3 separate regions of the Homo sapiens genome follow, and all the other regions are linked to region 2. Evidence: fine-mapped expression QTL. A gene starts in region 2. Each other region holds a variant in brackets. All regions are shown on one strand. Distances are between the middles of the regions. Region 1 overlaps KLHL33 (kelch like family member 33). Region 2 holds the start of PNP (purine nucleoside phosphorylase). Region 3 has its middle 11 kb from the start of RNASE10.

Region 1 (9,950 bases), 45 kb after region 2:
TATATCTCCTAATGCTATCCTTCCCCCCTCCCCCCACCCCACAACATTCTCCAGAGTGTGATGTTCCCCTTCCTGTGTCCACGTGTTCTCATTGTTCAATTCCCACCTATGAGTGAGAACATGCGGTGTTTGGTTTTTTTGTCCTTGCGATAGTTTACTGAGAATGATGATTTCCAATCTCATCCATGTCCCTACAAAGGACATGAACTCATCATTTTTTATGGCTGCATAGTATTCCATGGTGTATATGTGCCACATTTTCTTAATCCGGTCTATCATTGTTGGACATTTGGGTTGGTTCCAAGTCTTTGCTATTGTGAATAGTGATGCAATAAACATATGTGTGCATGTGTCTTTATAGCGGCATGATTTATATTCCTTTGGGCATATACCCAGTAATGGGATGGCTGGGTCAAATGGTATTTCTAGTTCTAGGTCCCTGAGGAATCGCCACACTGACTTCCACAATGGTTGAACTAGTTTACAGTCCCACCAACAGTGTAAAAGTGTTCCTATTTCTCCACATCCTCTCCAGCACCTGTTGTCAATTTTCTTTTTCTTTTTTTTTTTTTTTTTTTTGAGACAGAGTTTTACTCTGTTGCCCAGGCTGGAGTGCAATGGCGTGATCTCAGCTCACCGCAAACTCTTCCTCCTGAGTTCAAGTGATTCTCCTGCCTCAGCCTCCCTGAGTTGCTGGGATTACAGCTATTACATCTGGCTAATTTTGTATTTTTAGTAGAGACGGGGTTTCTCCATGTTGGTCAGGCTGGTCTTGAACTCCCGACCTCAGGTGATCCACCCACCTCGACCTCCGAAAGTGCTGGGATTACAGGCGTGAGCCACAATGCCCGGCCTGTGTAGGTCAGTTTTCTATTACCATTGTTTATTAAGATTTTCATGTTTCTAAGGGTGATGATGGAGTCTCCCTTGCACCCTTCTTCATTCTGGCCCCAGAAGTACTTGGCATGTATTTTATTTATTTATTTTTAGATTTCGTTATTTTAGTAAGATCTTTTTCTGTATCTCTATTTAAGATAGACTAGGAATGTAATTGAAAATGAGAAGGGGTAAGTAGGATGTATAAGAGAAAAGAGAAGGAAGAATAAAGAACGGGAAGAAGGAAATTGAAGGAGATGACAAGCTCTCTGGATGAACTTCTATGAACATTTTTTGTGATTTGTACCTAAAGGCAGACTTAAATAAAGGTTTCATAGTGACTGAATCTTTCTTATCTGAGTTTCTCTACTATAAAAAGCATTCAAAATAAAATTCCCTGTATTCTGCCTTCTAGGTCTACCACATGATTGAAATCATCTCCCTCCACTGTTACTGTGACCTGCTTCTTACCAAATCTAACAATCTGTGGCCATCTTCATTCTCTTTCATCTTTCTACAGGAACTGATTGGCGTGAAAACTGGCTCTTACCCTAAAAATTTCTCTTCTTCTGGCTTTAGAGATAGCACACTCTCCTGGATGGACCTTCTCTTATTTCTCCAATCCAAAATCCAGTAAGCCAGATCAAAGTGTCCAGGGGGGTGTGGCTTCATCCTTGGAGCTGATAGCCAAGGATCCACAGGTATGTGGATGAGGGTGGTTCATTGCAGAAAGTTCTGACTTTCATTATTTGTCTTTAAAACTGAGGGAAGAGTGAGGAGAGAGGAGACCTCTGACTTGAAGGAGGACCCTAGTCAATAGTCCATTCATCAGTGAGAAGGGACTGAATATAGGCAAGGTAACAGTCTGGGTCTTCAGCCAGGCAGACTAAGAATAGGGTAATATCAGGGTAACATTTCAACCCCAGAAGGGAAGTGGAGTGAGAAGTAGGAATTGGGATAGAAACTATGCATACAGATTGGGCAGCCGTGGTGGTGACCTGGCAAGACTAGTTTGATGACTGTAGAGGCCTGGGATTCTTACCTTTGGTGAATCAGATGATAAGCCAAGGTGTTCTAGATGCTCTCTAATAGCTCCCCCAACAGTCTTCCCTCCACCCCCTTTGCTGGTGAGGGTGAAATTTCTGATATCTCTCTTATCTTTCCAAGGTTGACTCAGGTACTGGGTAGGACTGGACATGCAGGTTAATGTTTAGTACAAGTAAGTGTGTGGGACTCTAGGTATCACTTGTCTCCTGTGCCTAGTCCTGGCTGGGTTGCTCACGTTCTTCCTTTCCTTTGTTTTATGCTCCCTGTCAGGAAGCTCACCTCTCCTCTGTCTCCAACCTTGATGGTTCGCCTGGGTTCTAGTCTGATTTTTTTCAGTGATTCTCACCTCCATTTAGATGTGCCAGCATCATTAGTTCAGATTCCTCATGCTTTATTGGCACTATCATTTCTCCTATTTCCTGGGCCTGAAGCTTTGGAATCCTCTTGAGCTTATTTTCCTTTATCTTTTCTTCTTTACTTGACTCATCATGTAATACTGGACTACCCAAAGAAAAACTGACTTAGTGTCTTCTCCCAATCTTTTCTGTGTTAAATATAATATATACGGAAAATTTTTAGCCAGGTGTGGTGACACATACCTGTAATCCCAGCTACATGGGAGGCTGAGGCACGAGAATTGTTTGAACCCGGGAGACGGAGGTTGCAGTGAGCTGAGATTGCACCACTGCACTCCAGCCTGGGTGACAGAGTGAGACTCTGTCTCAAATTAATAATAATAATATATGGAAAATTGATAGCAAGGAAGGTTTAAAAAAATAGAAGAGCAAATTTATATGAAAATTTCACTAGCTGTGAAACCAAGAATTATTACTTACCCAGACAGACACTCTGGGTTGTAGAAGCAACAATGTTCAATCAAAAGAATGAAAAAGTGCCAGGCACCGTGCTACATGCCCATAGTTCCAGCTCCTCAGAAGGCTGAGGTGGGAGGATTGCTTTAGCTCAGGAGTTCGAGTCCAGCCTGGATAACATAGTGAGACCCCATCTTGAAAAAAAAAGGAATAAAAGAAAAATTGCATAGAAAGATTATTTAATAGAATTATAGAATGGAGAGGTTTCAGAGATCATGTAATTCAAACCTTTTGTTACACAGCTTAGGAAATAAAGTTATGTGGTACACAGTCTGGATAATGAAGAGGAAGGCTTTTCATGAAACTAGTCTCTCACATACATTAGGACCAACAGGCAGGCTAAGACAAACATCACAGACGAGGTCTATAGACAGGACAGTCATAATTACTCTTTCAGGATCATAGACTATATCCTAAATCCTGTCTAGCCCTTGAGATCAAGGAGCCCTAAGTGAAAACGTGTGAATTCATCACAGCTCCTGGTAAAACACCTACCAAAAAAATTATAGATAGATAGATATTTATGTGTATATACATACATACATATATATCATTAGTGGTGAGATTATAGTCTGTTTTCTCTGAGAGAGAAATGATCATGGTATTATTACTGTAGCTGATTCAGAATTTAATAATCTATATTTCGTGTTTGATATGTTTTGGATCTGTGTCCCTGTGCATATCTCATGTCAAATTGTAATCCCCAGTGTCAGAGGTGGGGCCTGGTGGGAGGTGATGGGTCATGGGAGTGGTTTCCATGGTGGGTTTAGCCCCATTCCCTTGGTGGTGTTCTTCTGGTAGTGAGTTTTCGTGAGAACTTGTTGTTTACAAGTGTGTAGCACCTTCTGCCTCACTCTCTTTCTTGCTCCTGCTCCTGCCATGTAAGACGTTTCACGCCTCCTTTGCCTTCTTCCATAATTGAAAACTTCCTGAGGCCTCCCCAGAAGCAGATGCTGCCATGCTTCCTGTATAGCCTGCAGAACCATGAGACAATTAAACCTCTTTTCTTTATAAATTACCCAGTCTAGGGTATTTCTTTATAGTAATGTGAGAACAGACAAATACAGTATTAGAAGAATGACAAAAAAAACGTATAGCCTTGAAAGTGTACTGAGCTAGATTCAGTAACTTGGCTTCAAGTTTCAATTCAATTGTTGCTTTGGTAATTATGAGTAAGTCCTTTAACCAGTTTGAATTCCAAGTTCGTACCCCATAAAATAAGCACCATAATGGTATTGTAAACACCACAGTGTTATTATAGCTCATGAACCCCAGAGCTTGGGACAGTCCTAAGGACCTCTAGGCACATTTGGAAAAGTGTGCCTTGGTAATCTATAAATCAAGTTCCTAGGACATATCCTTTTAGATCAGAGAGCTAAATGATGCCAAACAAGGAGGCCAGTATACCGTAGTGACAGGCTCCTGAGACCACGAGTACCGTACAGAAGGTTATAAGCTACTCCAGCCTGATGTACTCCTGAGACAGGGAAGCAGATTCATCTGGATTCCAAATGAGGCCAAGGCATATAGTTAGAGAGCTATGTATCAGTTAGTTGGTGTTTTGTTTTGTTTTGTTTGAGACAGAGTCTTGCTCTGTCTCCCAGGCTGGAGAGCAGTGGCGCAGTCTCCGCTCACTGCAAACTCCACTTTCTGGGTTCAAG[T/C]GATTCTCCTACCTCAGCCTCCCGAGTAGCTGGGATTATAGGCACATGCCCGGCTAATTTTTGTATTTTTAGTAGAGACAGGGTTTCACCATGTTGGCCAGGCTGGTCTTGAACTCCTGACCTCAAGTGATCTGCCCGCCTCAGCCTCCCAAAGTGCTGGGATTACAAGAGTGAGCCACCGCGCCCGGCCTATATATCAGTTTGACTAATTGCCAGGTAGGCAATCTGAGCCCCAATACACACTTTTCAAGCAAGCTGTCACTGATGAAAGCCAACTCTTTCATTGCAGAGTAAGAACTGCTTGTTTTATTTTTTATTTTTTTGAGACAGAGTCTCACTCTGTCGCCCAGGCTGGAGTGCAGTGGTGCGATCTTGGGTCACTGCAACCTCCGCCTCCCAGATTCAAGTGATTCTCCTGCCTCAGCCTCCAGAGTAGCTGGGATTACAGCAGTCTGCCACTATGCCTGGCTAATTTTTGTATTTTTAGTAGAGATGGGATTTTACCATCTTGTCCAAGCTAGTCTTGAACTCCCGACCTCAGGTGATCCACCTGCCTCAGCCTCCCAAAGTGCTGGGATTACAGGTGTGAGCCACTGTGCCCAGCCTAGAACTGCTTGTTTTAGATTATAGTTATCATTGTTTGTGCTAGCTATATGCCAGGTGGTATGCTAAGTGCTTTATGTATATTATCTAATTTGAATGACAATACAGTCCATAAAAAGCGGGTGCTATTATTATTCCCACTTTATAGATGAGAAAACTGGAAGATTAGAGGAGTTTGTAAATGTTGAGCATGTATTTAAACTGGTAGAAGGACTTTATTATGCCCCCTCTCTAATGTAGCTCCATCTCCACTTGAGTGGCAAGCTTTATCCATGAAACTCATACATGGGCTCTACAAGTGGGAGCAATGAGCGAGTATAAGTGCCACTGGAGGTTTGGAGACATGGTCTTGAAAAATTAACATCCAATTGCTGTAATGCAAATAGCTGTGAATTTAAAAGACGCTCAGCCAGAGAAAGGGGCAGTGGGTTCTTCCTTCCAGCAGTTTTTTTCACTTATTAGGATGTATTGAGCTGGGGATTGTTATGAAAATGAGACAGGAGGTGAGACTTTTCAAACGGAGAACCTAGCCTGACCCCTTTGCCAAATCAGCATCATGTGATCTTACTGCAGACTCAAGGACCACTCTCTGGCCCCTTTGAGGGTTGAGATTATTAACCTTATTTTCTTCTACAGCTTAGGTCACACTGCTAGTCAGTAGCAGAGGAGGATTTAAACACAGATCCATTGGACCAGGTGTGGTGGCACATGTTTCAAGACCTTTGTCTCAAAAAATAAAAATAAAAAAATAAAAAATAAACCCAGATCTGTTGGACTCCAGAGTTCATGTTTAAACAACCATATTTAATATATAATATATTATCTGGCTGGGTGTGGTGGCTCACTCCTGTAATCCCAGCACTTTGGGAGGCAGAGGTAGGCGGATCACCTGAGGTCAGGAGTTCAAGGCCAGCCAGGACAACATGGTGAAACCTTGTCTCTACTAAAAAGACAAAAAATTAGCCAGCGGTGGTGGCAGGTGCCTGTAATCCCAGCTACTTGGGAGGCTGAGGCAGGAGAATTGCTTGAAACCAGGAGGCAGAGGTTGCAGTGAGCCGAGATTATGCCACTGCACTCCAGCCTGGGCAACAAAAGCAAAATTCCATCTCAAAAAAAAAAAAAAAAAAAAAAAAAAAAAAATATATATATATATATATATATATATATATATATATGTAATATACTATCTTCACCCATATCTTGGATTGCAGCCAAGTACTCCAGTTCTTCCCTGATTATCTGAATTCCCCTATTTTTTAAATTCTTCCTACAAGTCATTAAAATGTTCCAAGTTCACTATTTTTTTTTTTTTTTGGGACGGAATCTCTCTCTGTCACCAGGCTGGAGTGCAGTGGCACAATCTCAGCTCACTGCAACCTCCGCGTTCCCAGGTTCAAGCAATTCTCCTGTCTCAGCCTCTCGAGTAGCTGGGACTACAGGCGCATGCCACCATGCCCAGCTAGTTTTTGTATTTTTAGTAGAGATGGTGTTTCACCATGTTGGCCAGGATGGTCTTGATCTCTTGACCTTGGGATCCGCCCACCTCGGCCTCCCAAAGTGTTGGGATTACAGGCATGAGCCACCATGCCCGGCCTTTTTTTTCTTTTTCATTTTTTTTTTGACACGGAGTTTCACTCTTGTTGCCTAGGCTGGAGTGCAGTGGCGTGATCTTGGCTCACTGCAACCTCCACCTCCCAGGTTCAAGCAATTCTCCAGTCTCAGCCTCCCAAGTAGCTGGGATTACAGGTGCACGCCCCCACACCCGGCTAATTTTGTATTTTTAGTACAGACGAGGTTTTACCATGTTGGCCAGGCTGGTCTTGAACTCCTGACCTCAGGTGATCTGCCTGCCTCTGCCTTCCAAAGTGCTGGCATTACAGGTGTGAGCCACTGTGCCCGGCACCAAGTTCACTATTTTGAGATCCAAAGTTTACTTCCAATTACCTCTGCCTCATCCCATCCAAAAGCAGGACTCAAATCCTTTTCGGGATCAGGTGTACTGTTTTTGTCTCAAAAAAAAAAAAAAAAAAAAAGTAGGATGATTACAGAGTACCCTGATGTAAACTGTCTTATGTTTTGCAGGCCTAGTGTACCAGTTATCATTTGCTGCCCAAAACTTTGTGACTTAAAACAACAACCATTTAATCATATCTCACAATTTTATGTGTAACTGACTTCACTAAATTTAGGCAGGCTTCCACTAGATGATTCTTCTGTTTCATGTGTCATTAGTGGAAGTTACTTGATAATAGACAATTGGTAGATGAACTGGTCTGAGGGACTTAAGACTGCTTCTTTCTCCACTAGGGCACCAGACAGGGCACATGTCTGGTGCCCTGGTGGAGATGGCTAGAAGGCTGAGCTCAGTTGAGTGTGTTAATTGAAACACCTACATGTGGCCTCTTTAGAGTGGCAGTCTTACGGTAGTTGGACTCACATGGCAGCTCAGGGCTTCCCAAGGGAGTGTTCCAGAGTCCTGGAGGAAGTGCAAGTTTCCTTTGACCTAGCTTCAGAAGTCCCAGAATGCAACTGCTGCCACATTATATTGGTCAAGCAAGTGACCAGGTCAGCCCAGTTTCAAGAAGGAATTAGACTCTGCCTCTCAATGGGAGAGGAAGCAAAGAATTTGTGGCCTATTTTAATTACCATACCCGATTAGGGAGACTAGTCAGTGAGGAATGTCCTTGAAGAAAGATGAAGAAAGAGGTCGGGCATGGTGGCTCATGTCTGTAATCCCAGCAGTTTGGGAAGTTGAGGTGGGCGGATCACCTGAGGTCAGGAGTTTGAGACCAGCCTGGCCAAGATGGTGAAACCTTGTCTCTACTAAAAATACAAACAATGAGCTGGGCATGGCGGTGGGTGCCTGTAATCCCAGCTACTTGGGAGGCTGAGGCAGGAGAATTGCTTGAACCCAGGAGGCAGAGGTTGTAGTGAACCGACATCGTGCCACTGCACTCCAGCCTGGGCGACACAGCAAGACTCTGCCTCAAAAAGAAAAAAAAAAGAAAGATGAAGAAAGATATTGGCAAATGTCCACAGACCAGAGGCCAAATGCAGGGTTGTTTTGATTCAGAAGAGTCAGAAGGGAGAAGACACTGAGGTTCTTGTAATCTGCTTTCAGATGGCCCAGAAGGGCTTGTCTGAGGTGACAAGTGGCTATCCAGTAAGTGTGTGCTTGTCCACATATCACGGCTTGTGTGATGCTTTAAGTTGTGATGGTTAGGTCAAACAAACGTATACTGTGAATCTAAAGGTAATCATTCACAAAGAAGAAAAAAATCAGGTAAAACCAATGGCCTTTCCACTTCCTACTGGTCACTCCCCTCCCAGCTTATCAGAGGCCTGCCCTTCCCAGTTCAAAGTCCATCTCTCCAGGGAGTTGCTTGAGATCCTTGCTCTCACCTATATAACCCTATAGTTTGTCTCTTAGTCCATTATAGCACTTCTCTTTATCTGCCTTGTATTTTTGTGATTTCTACATGTGTCTATCTCTACAAGATGATGAAGTCTTGAGAAGAAGGCATGTTGTATACATTTTACCCATGTACTAGCACTATTCTTTGACAGGGGATTAGCAGATGTTTGTTGATCAAAGTAGAGGAGGACAATGAACATGCAAGAAAACTGACCACAAGTGAGCAATTTTAACAGGTGGTAGGACCCTTCCCAAAAGGGAAGACTGAGGGGGTGGCACTCCTTTGTCCCAGAGACAAATCTGGATATTACACCCATCAGTTGGCCATCGCAGCTCAATGCTACTAATCAACAGTAAGGTGGTGTTGGCCTATATGCAGGAGAAAGTGAATGGTCCTTTAAGAACTTGCAAATAAGGAATGTAAGATGGTTCTGTGAGAGTTAAGTGATTTCATTCCAGTGGGAAATGGCACATCTTCCCAGCCCTGGTATAGTTATTTGATTGGCAAAACTCCTGATTTATTCTAATGATAGTCATCTGAAGAAAGATTGGTTCAACTCAAGGGAATGGCTAACTTAGGAAAGCATGACTCAAAGAAGCAAATATTGGCAATATGATTAGCACTTCCTACGGGTATGAAAAGCTGAATTTGAACATTGTGAACATCTTGCCAGTTGAAAGGTTTTCTCTGTTGCAAGGCAGAGATAGTTTATCTGGCTCCTCAAAACACAGCTGAAATGTCCTTTAGGGATCATTCAGTGGCTGTGTGATTGGAACAGAACATCTGGGAATTGGGCCAAATTTTTAATTTATATATGCAATTCAAGTGTGACAGGTGCATTATTTACTACCTACCTCTGCCATGTGGTAGGTAGTAACTATCGCTTCTGTTTAGGTAATCATCCTAGATTAATAGTTTTTTAAATGTTTACCTCAGATCAGAGATAAGAGTCATGATTACCTGAGAAATTGCTGGAAGTGCAAATTCTCAGGTTCCATCTCAGACCTACCTACTGAATCAGAAATTTTCAAAAGAGATGAGCAACAATCTTCGTTTTAATCAGAGCTTTTTTTTTTTTTTGAGACAGGGTCTTGCTTTGTCACCCAGGTTGCCAGGGCACGAACACAGCTCACTGCCGCCTCGACTTCCTGGACTTAAGCAATCCTCCTGCCTCAGCTCCAGAAGTAGCAAGGACTACAGGTGTGGGCCACCATGCCTAGCTAATTTTTTTTTTTTTTTTTGGCATCTTTTATAGAGACAGGGTTTCACCATGTTGCCCAGGCTGGTCTCAAACTCCTGAGCTCAAGTGATCTGCCCGCTTAGCCTCCCAAAGTGCTGGGATTATAGGCATGAGCCACCACACCCTGCCTAATCAGGGGTTCTTAAATTTAAGCATGTACCAAAACCAACCGGACAGCTTGTTAAAATACAAATCACTGGGCCCTGACCACAGTGTTTGGAAATATAGATTCTCA
Region 2 (10,268 bases):
AACTACTATGAAGGCAGAGATAAACTCAAATTTCCTTTTGAACCCTCATTCCTCCAGTTCCTTCCTCAGCCAAAGACTTAAGGGCTACATTTCTTTTTTGTTTTAACCAATAAAACACAATGGGACCACCCCTGGTAGAGGTCTACGTGCCATTCTTAGCTCCCTGGATCACAAGGGGGTTAATTCCAGACAAAAAACTAGATAAACTGCTGTACAAAAAAGCAGACCCAGTCCACAGTACTGGTTGTCAAAGGTTAAACCAGGACTGACTACACAAATTCTCAGCAGAAGCTTGTTAGAAAAACAGATTCTGGCACTCCAGCCTGGTGACAGAGTGAGACCCTATAAAAAACACACACACACACACACACAAAACCCCCACAAAAAACAGATTCTGAAGCCCATGTAATTTTGATTTTAAAACCAGGTTTAGGGGCTGGGCGCGGTGGCTCATGCCTGTAACCCCAGCACTTTGGGAGGCCGAGGTGGGCGGATCACGAGGTCAGGAGATCGAGACCATCCTGGCTAACATGTTGAAACCCCGTCTCTACTAAAAATACAAAAAAAAAAAAAAAAAAAAAAAAATTAGCCGGGCGTGGTGGCGGGCCCCTGTAGTCCTAGCTACACGGGAGGCTGAGGCAGTAGAATGGTGTGAACCCGGGAGGCAGAGGTTGCAGTGAGCCAAGATCGCTCCACTGAACTCCAGCCTGGGAGACAGAGCGAGACTCCGACTCCAAAATAAATAAATAAAAATAAAATAAAATAAAACCAGGTTTAGGAATTGCTGGTCTGGAGGGAAGCAGAATTCGACCTAGATTCTAGTCCCAATATTGTCTTTTTAGGCATGTAATTTGTGCTTTAAATTATTTTCTCAGGTATAAACAAGGGATGTAAATTGGCCCCATCTATCTTATAGGCTCAATCTGAAAATGAATTGAATACTTGCTAACAACTTCCAAAGACCTATGGCTCTGTTACACAAAGTATTTGAATCTTTCTCCTGCTTTCCACCTGCCTGTGGTCTTCTTCCTGTCCTTCCCCCTCCCTGCCTCCTCCCAGTTTCCTTTCTCTCCACCGAGGATCTTTGCTCTTCAGAAACCTCAGGGCACTTACCCAGAACCCCTACACTAGCAAGAATCAACCCGTGTTACTTTTCTCCCAGTTCCAAGTCCAGTTCTCTCACATCCATCTGGGAAGACCAAACGTTGCTTTCAGAGGTGGCAATGAGGTGTGACAGAGCTGAACACAACTAACCAAGCTTTCACAGGAAATTTTTTACTTGGAAAGCAGAGCCCGGGAAACCAGACATGATTGCACAATACACCAGGCTACCCTCAGGGAAGCAGTTGGATCAGGTAGGTTGGGGGCTGGTCAACGGAGCCACAGGACAATGGAGAGAAGCAATTAAGCTGGTAAAATGTTAATCAAATGGCATCCCCAAAAGGTGCAAAGGAAATGAATGTGTGAAGCTGCCGCCACATGGCATGTCTAGCCACATCTCACAGCACTTCCTCATTGGCTATCAGTCCCCTCAAGAACACCCTGGCTCCCTGGGCATCCAAAAGCAACTGTGATGCCTAATGCAGGTCACTTGGACTGGGATATCCAGGACCCAAGCCGAGAGAAGAGTTTTCAAAGGCGTGGGGTGGGGGAAGTGAGCACAGGACTGTTGCTCAGTTCGGTGACTGATTTCCGTCTCCACTTAGCAGTCACTTCCCACCGAGTTAATCATACTGCCAGTCTGGAAGGAAGGGAGGAGTGCAACTGGCAAAGGAGGTGAGTAATCTTGCCTCTAAAGGAGGAACTCCGAATTTGAGCACCAAAAGTACCTCGCAGCTTTACCCAGACCCTAGCATGGGAATTTATGAAGAGCGCAGGGGGTGAGGAGACCTCCTCCTGGTATGGAGTGAGGGATATATACATATACTCACTCTCCACTTGTTCCCCTAACACACACACGGAGACACACAACGGCTGCTTTTACGGAGTAGCTTAGACCGCACCGACCTGTCCCCTTCCTGCTCCGGTGGCGCCACCCCAGCTCGATTCCCGCGTGCGTCCCTGCCCGCGCTGGCTGCCGCATGACTCTGCCGCCTTGCTCCCGACACTAGGCTCAGTGCCAGGCCTCTCTGCATCCCCTGGGCGCTCGCTCCCTCCGCCAGCTCCCTCTGGGCCCAGTGTGCCAGGTTCCCGGGTCACAGCACCTGCCCCTCCCCAAGGGTCCTGCGGGCCTGGTGCCCTCCTCACCCGTTCTCCATGGTCTCGCAGACGCCTTCTCGATGAGCCTGCTCCGGTGTGCTCCGATCCGCTCCGATCCGATCGGATCCGCTCCGCTATGCTGAACTGAGCAAGGCTGCCGGGTCTGGTTCGCACAGTTGGCTCACTGGTCTAGGCTCTGGCTTATATCCCTTGCCCTGGAGTCCCCAGCCAATGGCAAGCGAGCACGCGGGCCGGCCCTGTCTCCATGGTGACACACCCTAATTCAATCGGCTGAACCTGGGCTGTAAACCTAATCAGAGTTCTTCCCAGCCCTAAACCTTCTGCCCCGGGGCGGGCGGGGGGAGCCGGAGCGCACCCAGCATTTCATCTCGGTACCCATTCCAGTCCGCAGGGCAGGAGTTCCCAGCAAGAAGGCCTATGCGGAAATAGGGCTAGAAGTAGGGAGGAGAGCCCCCAGCCCTCTCCTTGCAACCTCATTCCAGCTGTGTCAATAGCAAACCGTGAGAGATTCAAAAAGGAAAAATTTCATACCTTAGATTGTACAACCCCAGAATAAAAATGAAGCGAGACTGTGTCTGAGTTGCTCCCTGGACAAGGGAAGCTGGGTCGCCCCCGGCAACAGTGCTAACTTGGAGGATACAGGGTTTAGGAGAGCACATCCAGGCCCAGACCGGGAGAAGAAAAAGTTCTCAGGCAAGAATTCCGGGGTCCTAGATGCCGACAGAAAGGATAAGGATGGATTTGGTGGGTAGGGACACAGATAATCCCTTGATCTGCGCAATATTGATCCAAGCAATTCAGGTAACTAGAGGACTCCTCCCACGAAGAAAATTCTGTTATCGGAATACACGGGTACCAGAATATAACATAAATAGCGTGTCTTTGGTAGAATACAACTATTACTTCTGCCCACATTTACAATTTAATTTTTACATTTAATTTACATTTTTACATTAAATTTACATTTAATTTTTAATTTAAAAAATTAAAAAAAAATTTATATATAAAGGCCAGGCGCGGTGGCTCACGCCGGTAATCCCAGCACTTTGGGAGGCCGAGGTGGGTGGATCACCTGAGGTCAGGTGTCGGAGACCAGCCTGGCCAACAAGGCAAAACCCCATCTGTACTAAAAATACAAAAAATTAGCTGGGCGTGGTGGCAGGCGCCTGTAATCCCAGCTACTTGGGAGGCTGAGGCAGGGAGAATGGCTTGAACCCGGGAGGTGGAGGTTGCAGTGACCTGAGATCACACCATTGCACTCCAGCCTGGGCAACAGAGTGAGTAGCTGGTTCCTGAGAACTTACTAGCACTTTGAAAATAACAATGCACACAAATTGAAAAAAAAATTTCGTTCTTAAATAACCACAAACAGTTACTTACGGGATATGTACATCTGTTTGGCACTACTCAACTTCTCACATGCAGGAATCCAATGCTGCCACCCTCATTTTCTGTTCCATGCTGATTTTTACACAGTACTTTTTTTTTTTACTTAATACTTAATTTTTATCAGAGGGACCTTCTAAAACCATCTTTTGTAAAGATATGTTGTCTTTATATATATATATATTTTTGAGACAGGGTTTCACTCTGTAACCCAGGCTGGAGTACAGTAGCACGATCTTGCCTCACTGCAATCTCTGCTGCCTGGGTTTGAGCCATTCTTTTGCCTCAGCCTCCCGAGTAGCTGGGATTACAGGTGCCTGCCACCATGCCTGGCTAATTTTTGTATTTTTAGTAGAGACGGGGTTTTGCCATATTGGCCAAGCTGGCCTTGAACTCCTGACTTCAACTGATCTGCCCACCTCGGCCTCTCAAAGTGCTGAGAGTATAGGCATGAGCTACCACACCTGGCCAGATATATTGTCATCAAAAGGAATGTAGCACAATCTAATGTTCCAACTGTGAATCACCTCAAGTTAATAGGTCACACAGTGTTTAAGAAATATAAAATATTGCTGTGTTTCCTCTGAAAATTAAAAATATTCCACAATACCCTTGTGAGCTTGTACTTTGGCACAGTTTGGGAACCATGGCCCCAGTCACTCCATGCCACCTCATTCCTGAATCTATGTAGTGTAAATGAATGGGCTCTAATAAAACTACCTGTGTATGAATGCCATCTTCACCCCTTATTTACTCGTGTGATTCTAGGCAAGTAAAATTCTTATTATGCTTCAATTTTTTCATCTGTAAAATAGCAATAATCTTAGTATTTTTGCAAGGATTATACAGAATACCTTTTACATGTTTAGGTAAATGCCTGGATATATAATAAGCACACATTAAATGCTGGCTATTATGATTAATCTCCATTGTCTCTTTCTCTTTTGTTCTTTCTAGACTCACCTAACCATAAATTGAATCAAAATAAAAACTAGAGGTATATCCAGCCTATCAATACCAATGAATCCCACACTGTTCAAAACAGAAGGCACTAGCCATGTGTGGCTATTTAAAAGTAATAAAATTAATTAAGATGAAATATAATAAAAATAATTCAGTTACCTAATCATACTAATTACATTGTAACTTCTCGATAGTCACATGTGGTTAGTGGCTACCATATTGCATAGCATAATTACGTTTTTATGCTAGAGCACAGCACTGTTCTTATCTTTTCTAGTCACTGCCACCTTGTATCCACATAAAAGAAACTGGAACTGTGCTTTATTATTTACTTTTAGGGTAAAAGAGTTCCTGTAGCATTCCTATAGACAGGAACCAGACGATCATCAATCTTAGTGTGATTAGAGTTCATTAATGCCTTATTACCTTTTCTTCTATCTTCTCATCACTTCTATCTTCAGAGGGACTCCTTGTCCAGGAACATACTTAGTAACACACTTACCCTCCACCCGCAAGATCAAGGAAACTAAAAAAAAGTGGCAGGAATAGGTTCTAAGTCACTCAGTATTGCCTTGTGGAACGTATTTTATTCCTGCCCTCTCAACTGAGATCTCTTATTCTCTCTAGATCACAAGCTAAATATGCGGTTTTAAAAATATCTATCCCTGGCCAGGCACAGTGCCTCAGACCTGTAATCCCAGCACTTTGGGAAGCCAAGACAGGAGGATTACTTGAGCCCAGGAGTTTGAGACCAGCCTGAGCAACATGGTGAAGTCTCATCTCTACAAAAAATACAAAAATTAGCCAGGTGTGGTGGCATCTGTGGTCCCAGCTACTAGGGAGGCTGAGGCAGGAGAATCACCTGAGCCCAGGAAGTCAAGGCTGCAGTGAGCTGTGATGGAGCCACTGCACTCCAGTCTGAGTGACAGAGTGAGACCCTATCTCAAAAAATAAAATAAAATATCTACTCCCCTTATCACCATAATCTTTGGTCTTCCATTTTCTCCAATTACTGAAATTAAAACATTTTAGGGTTTTTCCCTGTTTTTTTTTTGTTGTTGTTTGTTTGTTTGTTTTTAGATAGGGTCTCGCTCTGCCACCCAGGCTGGAGTGTAGTGGCTCAATCTCAGCTCACTGCAGCCTCAATCTCCTAGGCTCAAGCGATCCTCTTTCCTCTGCCTCCCAAGTAGCTAGGACTACAGGCACGCACCACCGCATTCGCCTATTTTTTATTTTTATTTTTTTAGAGATGGGGTATCTTCATGTTGCCCAGGCTGGTCTCAAACTCCTGGGCTCAAGTGATCCTCCCACCTCAGCCTCCCAAAGTACTGGGATTATGGGCATGAACCAGCACATCCAGCCCTTCTCTTTCTGTTATAGGGATCACTTTTATTTCTCTTTTCTAAGAGTGAGACTTCCATCTGTGCCTCACTCAGTGGCAGGAAGAACAGAGCAGAGATAAAGGACTGGCCTACCACCCTCTATTCCAAAGACCTTGGCTCCTAGAAAGGGAAGCCAGGAATTCCCTAAAGGAAAGAGCAAAGAACTGAGGCCCAGGAAGAGCAAGGAGCACAAGGGAGCAAAGTCCCAATGTAATTAACGTAAATTAATTCTTTAAAACCAGGTCACACCCTACCCAATCCCACCCAACCCCCGGCAAACTACCCCTCGTCTTAGTTAACTCACTCTGCACATTACCAGAAACTTTCTGTGCCTTTGAAATGCAGTAAGGGATTGTGTTGTTTTCACACAGGTGGTAAATTACCACTTCAGGAAAGAGGAAAAAAGAAATAGGGCATGTGGAATATGTGAAAAAAAAGAAATCAGATTGGGACACTTTGGGTCATAGAAGCCAAGCAGATGTTTTCCACCCCATCCTCTGGCCATGTACACACTGTACTAGTTATCACTTTGTTGGAAATCTAAAGAAAAAAATGCTTTGAAATCTATTCTATTATATAACACAATGAAGTGTGTTCCCCCAAATTCTTATATTGACGCTCTAATCCTCATTGTGACTATATTTGGAGATAAGTCCTTTAAAAAGGTAATTAAGTTTAAATGAGGTCATAATGGTGGGGCCACAATCCAATAAGACTGTTGTTCTCATAAGAAGAAGAGAGGCCAGGCAGGGTGGTGCTCACCTGTAATCCCAGCATTTGGACACCAAAGCAAGAGGATCACTTGAGCCCAGGAGTTAGAGACCAATGACCAGCCTGGGCAACATAGTGAGACCCTGTCTCTACAAAAAATTAAAATATTAGCTAGGCATGGTGGCATGCACCTGTCATCCCAGCTACTTGGGAGACTGAGGTGGCAGGACTGCTTGTGCCCAGGAGTTCAAGGCCGCCACAGACTATGACTGCACCACTGCACTCCTGCCTGGGTGACAGAGTGAGACCCTGTCTCTAAAAGCACGGAAAAAGAAGAGAAAGAGGAAGAGAAAGCAAAAATGTGTGTAGAGAAAAGGCCATTTATGCCACAGTGAGAAGGTGGCCATCTGTAAGCTAAGGAGAGAAGCCTCAGGAGAAAGCAAACCTGCCAATATCTTGATCTTGGGCTTCCAGACTCCAGAGCTGTGAGAAAATAAATGTTTGTCGTTTATGCTATCTATAGTGTTTTTTATGTCCTAGCAAATTAATACACCTCAATAGCCTAACTGTTCTCAATCTAAGTGAGAAGATCCCACCCCATAGGTAAAAATCAGGCAATACCTGAGACACTCAATATTTACCAGAGATAATATTAAAATGGCTTATCTGTAAAATACAGGTACCAACCAATCAGAACCAATGGCGCCATAAACAACCAATGCCAGCCACCCTGTAGTGCCCCAGCTGAATATCCTCCCTGCTTGCAACTGCAGCTAACAATATTGTTCAGTACCCAGCAAATTTATCCCAAGATGGGGCTTAAGTTACTTCATTAATTAATTAGAGAGCCATCTATCAAGCAGCTTCTATGTTCCAGGCATTTAGCATAAAAGGGGGCTCATCCCAAGCACCTTCTCTCTGCCACTTCTGTGCTTCTGTCCCTTTCAATCTACCTATCAAATTATTTGAATGTAAAATATTAGATCATAAGTCAGAAGACGGGGATTTAGAGCTCCATTTCAATCTGTCACTTAGCTTAAATGACTCCAGTTTACACAGCCTCAGTTTCCACATCTGTAAAATAAAGATATAGTCTTGCCTTCCCTGTCCACATCACAGTGGGTTCTGAAATAAAATGAATATAACTATGAATGTGCTTTATTGGCCGGGCACAGTGGCTCACGCCTGTAATCCCAGCACTTTGGGAGGCCGAGGCGGGTGAATCACGAGTTCAAGTGATTGAGACCATCCTGGCCAACATGGTGAAACCCCATCTCTACTAAAAATACAAAAATTAGCTGGGTGTGGTGGCACACACTTGTAATCCCAACTACTCGGGAGGCTGAGGCAGGAGAATCGCTTGATCCCGGGAGGTGGGCAGAGATCACACCACTGCACTCCAGCCTGGCGACAGAGTGAGACTCTGTCTCAAAAAAAAAAATGCTTTATTAACTGTGAGCAAGTTCCAAATATTATGATTACTTTTTGCATTTTTCTGCCTATTGATCTACTCAACAACACAGAGCTCAGATCCTAGTTATCCATGCACAATACTCATTTTTCTTTATGTTTTAGAAGTTTTCTCTGGCTGCTCTAGCTAGAAGTGATCTCTTCTTTTCTTGAACTTGAATTACATTGTTTAATTCTTTTATTATGAAGCATGTGCTGTATCATGAATTTCTAGTATTGATATTTTTCCATGTAATAAAATACTAGTGCTGATTTTCTTTTTTTTTTTTTTTTTTTTGAGACACGATCTTGCTCTGTTGCCCAGGTTTAGATCATGGCTCATTGTAACCTTGAACTCCTGGGCTCAAGCAATCCTCCACCTCAGCCTCCCAAAACACCGGGATTACAGGCATGAGCCACCACTCCTGACCTGATATGTTATACTGTCAATGTTTACACTATTCTGTCTCCCTACCCAGAGTGTAAGCTTTTTTAAGGAGTGTCTTTCACAAAGTGTAGATATTTAAAAAATATTTTTAGGACAGTTTTTGGAATATATGTGTAACTAGGGCGCAAATAATGGATCCTACTCCAACCCCAGACAATGCTTGAGCATCTGTGTGCCACAAACAGCAGAAAAAGCAGCAGACTGGCCTCCCTCTATGGAGCTACAACCTCTTCCCTATTTTGTATCTGGAGCTTCCTTAGTTCTTTAAGTGTCTGTTAGGGGCTCTTATCTAACTGGTCGAAGGTTACTAGCTTCCAAGTAGAAGTTGGCCTGAGAAAACCCTGTCTAAAAAAATCAGGACCTAGGTGAAGTCTCCAGCCCCTGTAGCAGCCAAGTGCTGGGACATCTGCAGTTCCTTTGTTATTACATATTTGGGGCTGGCTGTACTTTCTTTGATGCACTTCCTTTCTTAGTGGAGAGTCTGCTAGCCAAACTGATAATGGACCTCCTCGGGGTTTATTGTTTTTATCAATTCCTTGTTGCTTCCCATATTTAAAGCAGTCCCAGTTTGGGCTATGACTTGGGAAAAAATCCAGGTGTGGTTCAGGCGCCCATAAAGACCACACGAGACTTCAGGTAGGGGAGGAGGCACTGCCCCTTTGCTGGAAGCAAAGTTGAGACAGGCCTAAAGACTGTCCCATCTGTCAAATAAGGTGACGAAAATAACCTTGTATTTGATTAATCCAATCTACAAACTTGTGCGTATGTTAAAGGTTGGTGGTCATAAAACTGAGTAAAGGCACGGTGGCTTGTCCCTGTAGTCCCAGCTACTGGGAAGGCTTAGGCAGGAGATCAAACTCAGGAGTTTGAGTCCAGCATAGGCAAGACCCCATCTCTATTGAATTTTTTTTTTTTTTTTTTTAGTAAAACGATGAAATCTTCTAGTAGTGGAGACACTAATGAAAAGATAATTTAACAATTTGATCAGCAATGGGGAAAGACGGGGCTCTGTAAGGACAGCTTCCAGGAAAACCCAGTCTTGTGTCCTGTCCTGAAAGTGACTCTAGCGACAAAGGCTGGAGTGATAATCTTAACTTTTTAATCCATTTCCTTCTGGTACCTCATTACTCTGACTTTTTAAAGGTACTTCTTTGAGTAGAACAGCTAACTTTGTCTACTGTTCCCCACCGTCCATTTTCTCCCCGCTCAGAAGATCCCAAGCTTCCGCACTCCTTTATTGCACCCGCCCAGCCTCCTTTAAAATGCATAAGCCACGCCCCCCATGTTCTGGCGCTAAGTTCGGGCCAATGCAGTTGCGCCGCTAGGATCACAGGACGAAAGAAGTAAAGTCACCAGCCAATAGGAAACCAGCTACAACGCAAAGCCGGAGAAAAGTGTTTTAGTGGTGTCTTTGAACCAATGAGGAGCAGAGCAACAGGGACCGTGCAGCTTCCAGAAACACGTGACCAGTTGAGCAGACGCAGCCTAGCCCTACCTCCTGGTCTGGAGGTAGCGCGATGGGCGTCGCTCCCAATAGCTTGCAGAACCTCTAGTCACGTGCAGGTTTTGCAAGCCCAGCAGCATCTGGCAGGTCATGTGACAGTTGACGTTTGTGCGTCGCTCCCCAATGGAAAAGGAGAGCTGCCTTCACAGGACCAGGAATTGGTTTATCTACGCGAATAATAGCATGACCCGGGCGGGGATAGCCT
Region 3 (8,593 bases), 28 kb before region 2:
ATAGCCATGGGTTCAGTCCATGGATTGATCTCTGGGGGAGTTACCACATTATGTCTTGTTCTTTCTAACTGAGTGATTTGGGCAGCTTCTGCAATCTTGGAAGAGTTTTGCTAATAACATATGAACCGTTAAACAAACCACAACCACTCTGGTGCAACAGAAACTTCCAGAACCAACAGTCTACAAAAGGAGCTCCCCAAAATCACATCTAATTTATGAATCACTCCTGCCAAGAAGTTCTTTGTTTTTTTACAGCCTATACCTCTGCTAGAAAAGATGCCAGCTCTCTGATATTCTGGGTGTCATCCTCGATAAAAATCATGCTCAGGCCGGGTGCAGTGGCTCATTCAGCCTGTAATCCCAGCACTTTGGGAAGCTGAGGCAGGTGGATCACTTGAGCACAGGAGTTTGAGACCAGCCTAGGCAACATGGAAAGGCCCTGTTTCTACTAAAAATACAAAAACTAGCTGGGTGTGGTGGTGCGTGCCTGTAGTCCCAGCTACTTTGGAGGCTGAGGTGGGAAGATCACCTGAGCCCAGAGTGTTGAGGCTGCAGTGAGCCGATATCACACTGCTGTACTCCGGCCTGGGCAACAGAATGTCTCAAAAGAAAAAAAAAATTCAAACATTTTTATCAGTGTAAGTAATATTCACTCTCTTCTTTGAAATAGGCTTAATCATTATCTTTAGAGATATTTCATCTAAAAATTATTGGAGATGACTTTATTATCTGGTTGTATATGTTGAAGAAATAACCAAATTTCTTTGTAAGTTGCTTTTTTTTTTTTTTTTTTTTTTTTTTTGAGACGGAGTCTCGCTGTCGCCCAGGCTGGATTGCAGTGGTGCGATCTCGGCTCACTGCAGGCTCCGCCCCCTGGGTTCACCCCATTCTCCTGCCTCAGCCTCCCGAGTAACTGGGACTACAGGCACCCGCTACCATGCCCGGCTAATTTTTTTGTATTTTTAGTAGAGACAGGGTTTCACCATGTTAGCCAGGATGGTCTTGATCTCCTGACCTCGTGATCCGCCCGCCTCGGCTTCCCAAAGTGCTGGGATTACAGGCGTGAGCCACCGCGCCCGGCCTGTAAGTTGCATTATTCTTATCATGAGCCTGCATAACCTTTCACATTTGAAAATTATTGGTAATAAACTAACCACAGTCATTTTAAAGCTCTGTCACCTACAGATAGTTTTTGCTCTACTCTAATGTTTGCCTAAAGACTCTGCTATAAATTACAGGCCACAATTTGTGTCTTCAATAAAGAAGGACAGTCTCAAAGCCTCATGAAAAACGATTGTACCAGATATTTCAAACTATTAATACTTCAAAGCATATACTTGGATATAGGCTTTTGATGTAACATCATTTAGACAATTTTTAGATCAGGCTGGGTGCAGTGGCTCACGCCTGTAATCCCAGCACTCTGGGAGGCCAAGGCGGGTGGATCACCTGAGATCAGGAGTTTGAGATCAGCCTGGCCAACATGACAAAGCCCTGTCTATACTAAAAATACAAAAAAAATTAGCCGGGAGTGGTGGCGGGGGGCCTGTAATCCCAGCTACTTGGGAGGCTGAGGCAGGAGAATCACTTGAACTTGGGAGGTGGAGGTTGCAGAGAATAGAGATCGCACCACTGCAGTCAAGCCTAGGTGACAAAGCCAGTCTCCATCTCAAAAAAAAAAAAAATTTTTTTTATATCAAACCTGTAGACTGACTCCAGATTTCCAAAACTCATTTTAGTTTTTTTATTTAAAAAAAAAACCTCTTCATGACAGTTAACTCAAGTTTCAACAGAATAAGAATTAATTATGTAAAGCTGAATGAACTTATAAAGAAACGTTGTAGTTATTTGTTTGGAATATTGTTTTAAAGTTCTGCTTTAATGTTGATGTTGTTTTAATGTTCTATTCTGAACATATAAACAAGGTTTTTTCCTTTCTTCTTAAAATCTCTCTAATTCATAAGTTAGGAGCTTTTGAAAATTAAAATATTTATCAAAAATAAACATTTTTAAATGATATCTGATTCTTACTGACCCACATACTCCAACTAAGAATTCAGAAACTCTTACCTCCTTTCTTACTTTTTATAACAGTATAGTTATCTGAATAGGTTCAGCAAGAATCTTTTCTCTTTTTTGCCAGGATATAACAGAAAAACAGTTACACAACCAAGGTGTGGGCCAGAATGTCACTTTTGAGAATGGTGCTCCTTTAATCAGCTTTGATGAGCCAATGCCTACAAAATCCTCTCAGAAAAACCCACCTGGGATCTGGCTTACAGAGTCCCAGTCTTGCAGGAGGTGAGGAAGGTCACTTCCTAGTTCTTGGTTCCTTACCTTCTTGGCAGGTAAGAAACTTCAAGAAAATATGAGAAACTTGAGAAGAAAGAAATTCATCCAAATGTATAGGTACTGTGGGTAAAAATCTAGTGGAAAGAGATTCTTGAGCTTGGTTTTTCTAACCTCACAACAGCAAATAATAGAGGCTTTTAAAAGTCAGTCTGAGATTTCTTAAGGAAACTTCTAGAAAGAAGTTCATTCTGTGGCCTTGTGAATAGTATATGGCTCTAGATTTACGAAGCAAACTTAAGAAGGCCTATATGGTAAATAAAACTCTTCCACCTGTGGAAATAATCAGGCCAAACCGTCAGGATTGCCCTTTTACTTATCTTCCAGCACACTGAGCTGAGAGCTTCCTATGCCATCTCTCTTCTTGTCCTCAGTGCCAAGCAAAGTGTGTGGAACAATGAAGGTAGTCAACAACATTTATGAGAAGAATAAATATCAGGTTGTGAAATAGCTTTCGCACCTGATTCCAACTGTGAGGCGGCAATGGAGAGCCAGGGAGGCAGGCAGAGGCACTGAACTCATCAAGCTTGGTTTCCTCTGCCCAGCCTCAAGTTGTACCATGGGGAGACAGAGACTCCATTAAAAATAAACTCACAATTAACTTTAAAATACTGCAGCAATAAACAAATAAGTAAAAATAACAAAATAAGGAGAAGAGATGAAACAAGATGAGCAAAATGTTGATTACTGTTGAAGCTGCATGTAATGGGCACTTGGGGATTAAATCATATGCTTCTTTCTAATTTCAGTGCATGTTTAAAAATTTCCATAATGGAAAGGAGAAGAAAGGAAAGGAAAAGGAAGGGAAAGGTAAAGGAAAGGAAAAGGAAGGGAAAGGAAGGGAGGGGAGAGCAGGGAGAGGAAGGAAGAGGAGGGGAGGAAAGGGCAAGGGAAAGGGAGGGGAAGGGAGGGAAAAGGGAGAAGCGGGGAGGGGAGCGGAGGGGAAGGAAGGGAAGGGAGAAAGGAAAGAAAAGAAAAGAAGAAAAGAAAAAGAAAGGAAAGGGGAAAGGACAGGAAAGAGGAAAGGAGAAAGGAAAGGAAAAAGGAATGAAAAAAAAGAAAGAACAGGAAAGGAAAGGAAACTTGAAGGGGAAGGAAATTACAAAAAGGAAGTCTGCTGGCTTTGTAAGGAAGGGGGTAATGAGTAAGTTCAGGCAGTTTTGTTTCATTTTGGGTATTTGCACCAGTATTCGAGGTGTCCCAATCAGAGTGACTCATCTTGAATAAAGGCCAGATGAAGCCAAACCTGCTGGGTTACTTTCCCAGGAAATTGGGCACTGTTAATCACAAAATGTTTATGGTTGAGGAAATGAGTTGATGGAAAAAGGCATTCTTAGTTTAAAAATGGGTTTCTTGGATGGCATGGTGGCTCACACCTGTAATCCCAGCACTTCAGGAGGCCAAGGCAGTTAGATTGCTTGATCTCAGGAGTTCAAACCAGCCATGGGCAATGTCAGGCGTCTGAGCCCAAGCTTGCACGTGTAAGTATCCGGATGGCCTGAAGCAACTGAAGAATCACAAAAGAAGTGAAAACAGTCGATTCCTTCCTTAACTGATGACATTACCTTGTGAAATTCCTTCTCCTGGCTCAGAAGCTCCCCTACTGAGCACCTTGTGACCCCCACCCCTGCCCGCCAGAGAACAATCCCCTTTGACTGTAATTTTCCACTACCTACCCAAATCCTATAAAACAGCCCCACCCCATCTCCCTTTGCTGACTCCTTTTTTGGACTCAGTCCGCCTGCACCCAGGTAATTAAAAAGCTTTATTGCTCACACAAAGCCCGTTGGTGGTCTCTTCACACGGACACACGTGACAGGCAACATGGTAGAATCCTATCTCTATAAAAAAATAAAAATAAAAATTAGCTGGGCATGGAGACTGAGGTGAGAGAATCCAGAGGATCAAAGAGGATCGAGTCAAGGAGGTGGAGGCTACAGTGAGCCAAGATCGCACCACTGCACTCCAGCCTGGGCGACAAGAGTGAAATTCTGTCTTAAAAAAAAAGGTGGGTGGGAGGGTTTCTTGTGGTGGTGAAGGTGTAAGCAAATAAACACATAAAAATAAACATGGGTTTCACTTTAAAGATAATACTACACTCATAAATTATTGCTGAAATCAATAGTTACACCGGAGAATAACAATACTAATAGCCTGTCACAACTTGATCACAAGCCTTTATAATAAAGTAAACTATTCTTTTTTTTTTTTTTTTTTTTTTTTTTGAGATGGAGTCTGGCTCTGTTGCCCAGACTGAAGTGCAGTGGCGCAATCTCGGTTCACTGCAAGCTCCGCCACCCGGATTCATGCCATTCTCCTGCCTTAGCCTCCCGAGTAGCTGGGACTACAGGTGCCCACCACCATGCCCGGCTAATTTTTTGTATTTTTAGTGGAGATGGGGTTTCACCGTGTTAGCCAGGATGGTCTTGATCTCCTGACCTCGTGATCCACCCACCTCGGACTCCCAAAGTAAACTATTCTTAACCTTAATATCCTGTATAAGCAAGCATTACATTTAAAGTAGGGGCATTCCTCCTCTTGCTCTCTGAGGATGCCCTACTCTGTAATAGAGTAGTTTCTAATGAACTGTTTTAACTATACTGTACTCTGCGCCCTGTCCTTAATTCTTTCCTGCTCAAGATC[G/A]AAGAACTTGCTCTTGAGGTTTGGAACAGGAATCCTTTTCCAGTAAAACCAGTAGTTCAAACCACTCCCTGCTCCACCTCTGACTTCCTCTTTTGTTTTGAGAGAGGATCTGCAAGACACTAGCAGTTTTGAGGAAGAGTGAGCCCTAGGGAGGGAAATGCTCAGTGGCTCTGTACTAGCTCAACTGTTGGAAGTCAGCCTCACCCCACACACTGGCCTTTTCCTGATCCCTTTCTGGTCTGAGAATGGGCAGTGGCCAGATACTGCCATGAGTAGATGGGAGTGAAAATACTTAGAGATGAAGAGGAGGCAGGAGAAGGGGAGCTGAAATTTTCAAACAATTGTCACTGTGTGATATTTCAACTTCAGATAGTGGCCAAATAAGTTTCAGTGGGAACTGCGTTCAATCCAAATGACAAAACCACTAAAGTCTGAAGAAGATGTACCAGCTAAACTGGTAGCTTCTAATCTTTTGATCATCATGGGTTCTTTTTTCTTTCCTTTTTTTAAATAAAATTTTAAAAATTCCTTCCCAGGTAGCTGGGAGTACAGGTGGGCACCACCATATCCAGCTAATGTTTTAATTTTTTGTAGAGATGTAGAGATGGGGTTGCCCAACCTATTAGACCCTTTTTATTATTCCCAGCCCCCATAGGTCCCTATAAATATTTGTTAAGATATAGTTGTAACTTAGCAAATGTATCTGGGGGACCATGTCCAAAAAAACCAGATGGACACCCAGAAAGGGTTTCAGGAGGTGGAGGCTGCACAATTATCCAAGATACATTGGATCCTATCCACAACTTACAGGTGCAAACTTGATCTTATCTGAGTTTTTCAGTTTCTTTTTTTTTGAGATGGAGTCTCACTCTTGTCGCCCAGGCTGGAGTGCAGTGGCGTGATCTCGGCTCACTGCAACCACCACCTCCCGAGTTCAAGCTTCTCCTGCCTCAGCCTCCCAAGTAGCTGGGATTACAGGCACCCGCCACCACACCTGGCTAATTTTTGTATTTTTAGTAGACATGGGGTTTCACCATTTTGGCCAGGGTCATCTTGAACTCCTGACCTCAGGTGATCTGCCTGCCTCAGCCTCCCAAAGTGCTGGGATTACAGGCATGAACCACTGTGTCCAGCGCATTTTTCAGTTTCATGCGAGTTACTCACACCAACCAATCCCCAGTTAAAACTATGAACAAGATCTACATTGAAAAATATGTGCAGTGAAAATAAACCTGCCCCATACATTCTCTCCCTGACTCAAGTGGGAGACCAAACCTCAAAGAGATGATTGCTTGGTGAGCATCAGTGGTCAGCAGCGTCACAGTTCCTTCGGGCCAGGATAAGCTTGGGAAAATGTTTCTGACTTGAAATTAAGAAGTGAGCTAGTGTGTTACTCCTGGACAATGATGGTTTAGTAGAAAGCAATTCTCAAAATTTAGAATTTCCCTTTCCAATTTCCAAACTCTCCTATCTCCTTCTTAAAATACATTAGCATGTTTGTTGATTTGTATTCTTTTATACTCCACCTCATTCCAAGATAGGATTAAAGTCAGCTTGCAAAACTGTCTGCAATAAATAATCACACAAATCAAATTTAGGTGAGAGAAAAGAGGCAGGATACAACTTGATTGATTATGCCATCACTGTATCGAGGCTAAAATCATTATGCTTCCTGAAGCCAGCATTTTGGTCCCCAGAGCTGAAGTGTGTGAGTCCTTAGCCCTAGGTGATAGATTAGAAGTTTGGATGGTTTAATTCTACAAATGGTGACTACTATTTACCAAATGCTGATTTGACCTGATGTAATTCTCAGGTGGTACTAATAATTTCAAGTGTTGAAGAAATTTTGCCATATAATATTTATACCTATGAATCACCACTTTATTTTCCCATTTGTACTAATAAAAATAAATAAATAAATGAAACTTACCAGAAAAGGTTTTTAGTAAGAATGAGATGACCACAATGGTTTGAATAGTTCAAACAAACTTAGTTTTAGTTAGCATGTTGTAGCTTTATTCGGAGTAAATGTGTGGTTTCCAGTAAGATGCCTGACATGTTAAAATTAGCTCACAGACTTTTTGACGCGTAGAAATAATCTTGAAAGGACAGCCAACAACCATAACGAGAAACAAAACAGAAACCACCTAAGTCAAGAAGGTAGACACAAATGCCCCTCAATTTGCAAATAGATATCTCCCCTGCACCAAGAATCACCCCATGGGAGGAGCAACTAAGTTAAAATTTCAGGATGAAAGGGTTTGCTTTCTCTTCATGAAACTGTGTCTAGTACTCTGGTCAGGTAATGATGATGATCAAGGTAATATTAGTGATCCAAGGAGCAGAGGCTTTTTCCATGCCAAGCCCATATACCCTGATAGGGCCACCAGGTGGACAAGCCAGTCCATCTGCACGATGCTCCTAAAGGGCGGGTCACAGAGCCAAAGAAAGGAATGACTCGCCAGAAGAAACTCTGCCTTTTCTGAACTTTTTTTTTTTTTTTTGAGACAGAGTCTCACTCTGTTGCCAGGATGGAGGGCAGTGGCGCGATCTCGGCTCACTGCAACCTCTGCCTCTTGGGTTCAAGCCATTCTTCCATTCTTCTGCCTCAACCTCCTTAGTAGCTGGGACTACAGGCATGTGCCACCATGCCCTGCTAATTTTTTTGTATTTTAGTGGAGACAGGGTTTCGCCATGTCAGCCAGGATGGTCTCGATCTCCTGACCTCATGATCCCCCCGCCTTGGCCGCCCAAAGCGCTGGGATTACAGACGTGAGCCACCATGCCTGGCCAGCACTATTTTGAGTTCACAGACTAAGTTCACTTGGGATGGCAGATACTGGCTGATATGGTTTGGTCGTGGTAGTGAATAAGTCTCACGAGATCTGATGGTTTTATCAGGGGTTTCCACTTTTGCATCTTCCTCATTCCCTCTTGCCTCCTCCAAGTAAGAAGTGCCTTTCACCCTCTGCCATGATTGTGAGACCTCCCCAGCCATGTGGAACTGTAAGTCAAATTAAACCACCTTTTCTTCCCAGTCTCTGATATGTCTTTATCAGCAACATGAAAACGGACTAATACACTGGCACAGAAGTTAGCACAGAAGAGTTGTCCGTTAAGGTTTGGTGAAAGAGACAGGAAAGGAGAGGAAAGGGAAGGAAGGAAATAGGGAAGAAGGGAGGGAGGGAGCCCTGAGCAATGCGTGGAGGTCAGCAGTTAAGATTAGCTCAGCAGGAAGGAAGCGTCCTGGGCTTCCGTGAGAGGTGACCTCTGACAGGCTTCCAGGTTCCTGTGCTCTTTGAGAGAGTCTTTCTTATCCCCTCACCCAGTATACAGGTACTTTGGCCTGGCCTGGCTGGCCAGATATGCAGTCGAGGTTTTACCTTCAAAGATGACAGCTAGAGAAATAAGAAAAGGGAAAGCATTCAGAATCCATTATAAGACGTACTGATAAGTAACACACATGCAGATCTTATGAATTAATGTGGATCTTCATAGGTAAGATCTTCATAATGGCAATGCTATTATGTAAGAGAATGTCCTTATTCTTAGAGATGCGTGCCAATATATTCAAAAATGGACTGATAGGCAAATTGTCTGC

The links. PIP is the estimated chance that this variant, and not a neighbour inherited with it, causes the effect.
Region 1: its variant is the best candidate, but not a certain one, in a credible set for the expression of PNP in whole blood (TOPMed, PIP 0.75).
Region 3: its variant is the best candidate, but not a certain one, in a credible set for the expression of PNP in sun-exposed skin (GTEx, PIP 0.74).

Annotation. Positions count from the first base shown.
Region 1 is chr14:20,417,124-20,427,073 of GRCh38, reverse strand. KLHL33 (kelch like family member 33) reads left to right here. Exons shown (of 5, transcript NM_001365790.2): 5 at 1-1,222. Among named protein-coding and RNA genes, the nearest start is that of TEP1, 8.6 kb to the right of the region's middle. The variant T/C (reference allele first, on the strand shown) is at 4,457.
Region 2 is chr14:20,461,515-20,471,782 of GRCh38, reverse strand. PNP (purine nucleoside phosphorylase) reads right to left here and starts at 2,377. Exons shown (of 6, transcript NM_000270.4): 1 at 2,248-2,377. The coding sequence starts at 2,258. RefSeq lists enhancers at 1,686-1,815, 1,846-1,915, 2,106-2,610, 9,685-9,764, 9,097-10,062 and 2 more and silencers at 2,326-2,445, 10,255-10,268.
Region 3 is chr14:20,490,346-20,498,938 of GRCh38, reverse strand. No RefSeq gene overlaps it. Among named protein-coding and RNA genes, the nearest start is that of RNASE10, 11 kb to the left of the region's middle. RefSeq lists an enhancer at 7,169-7,268. The variant G/A (reference allele first, on the strand shown) is at 4,993.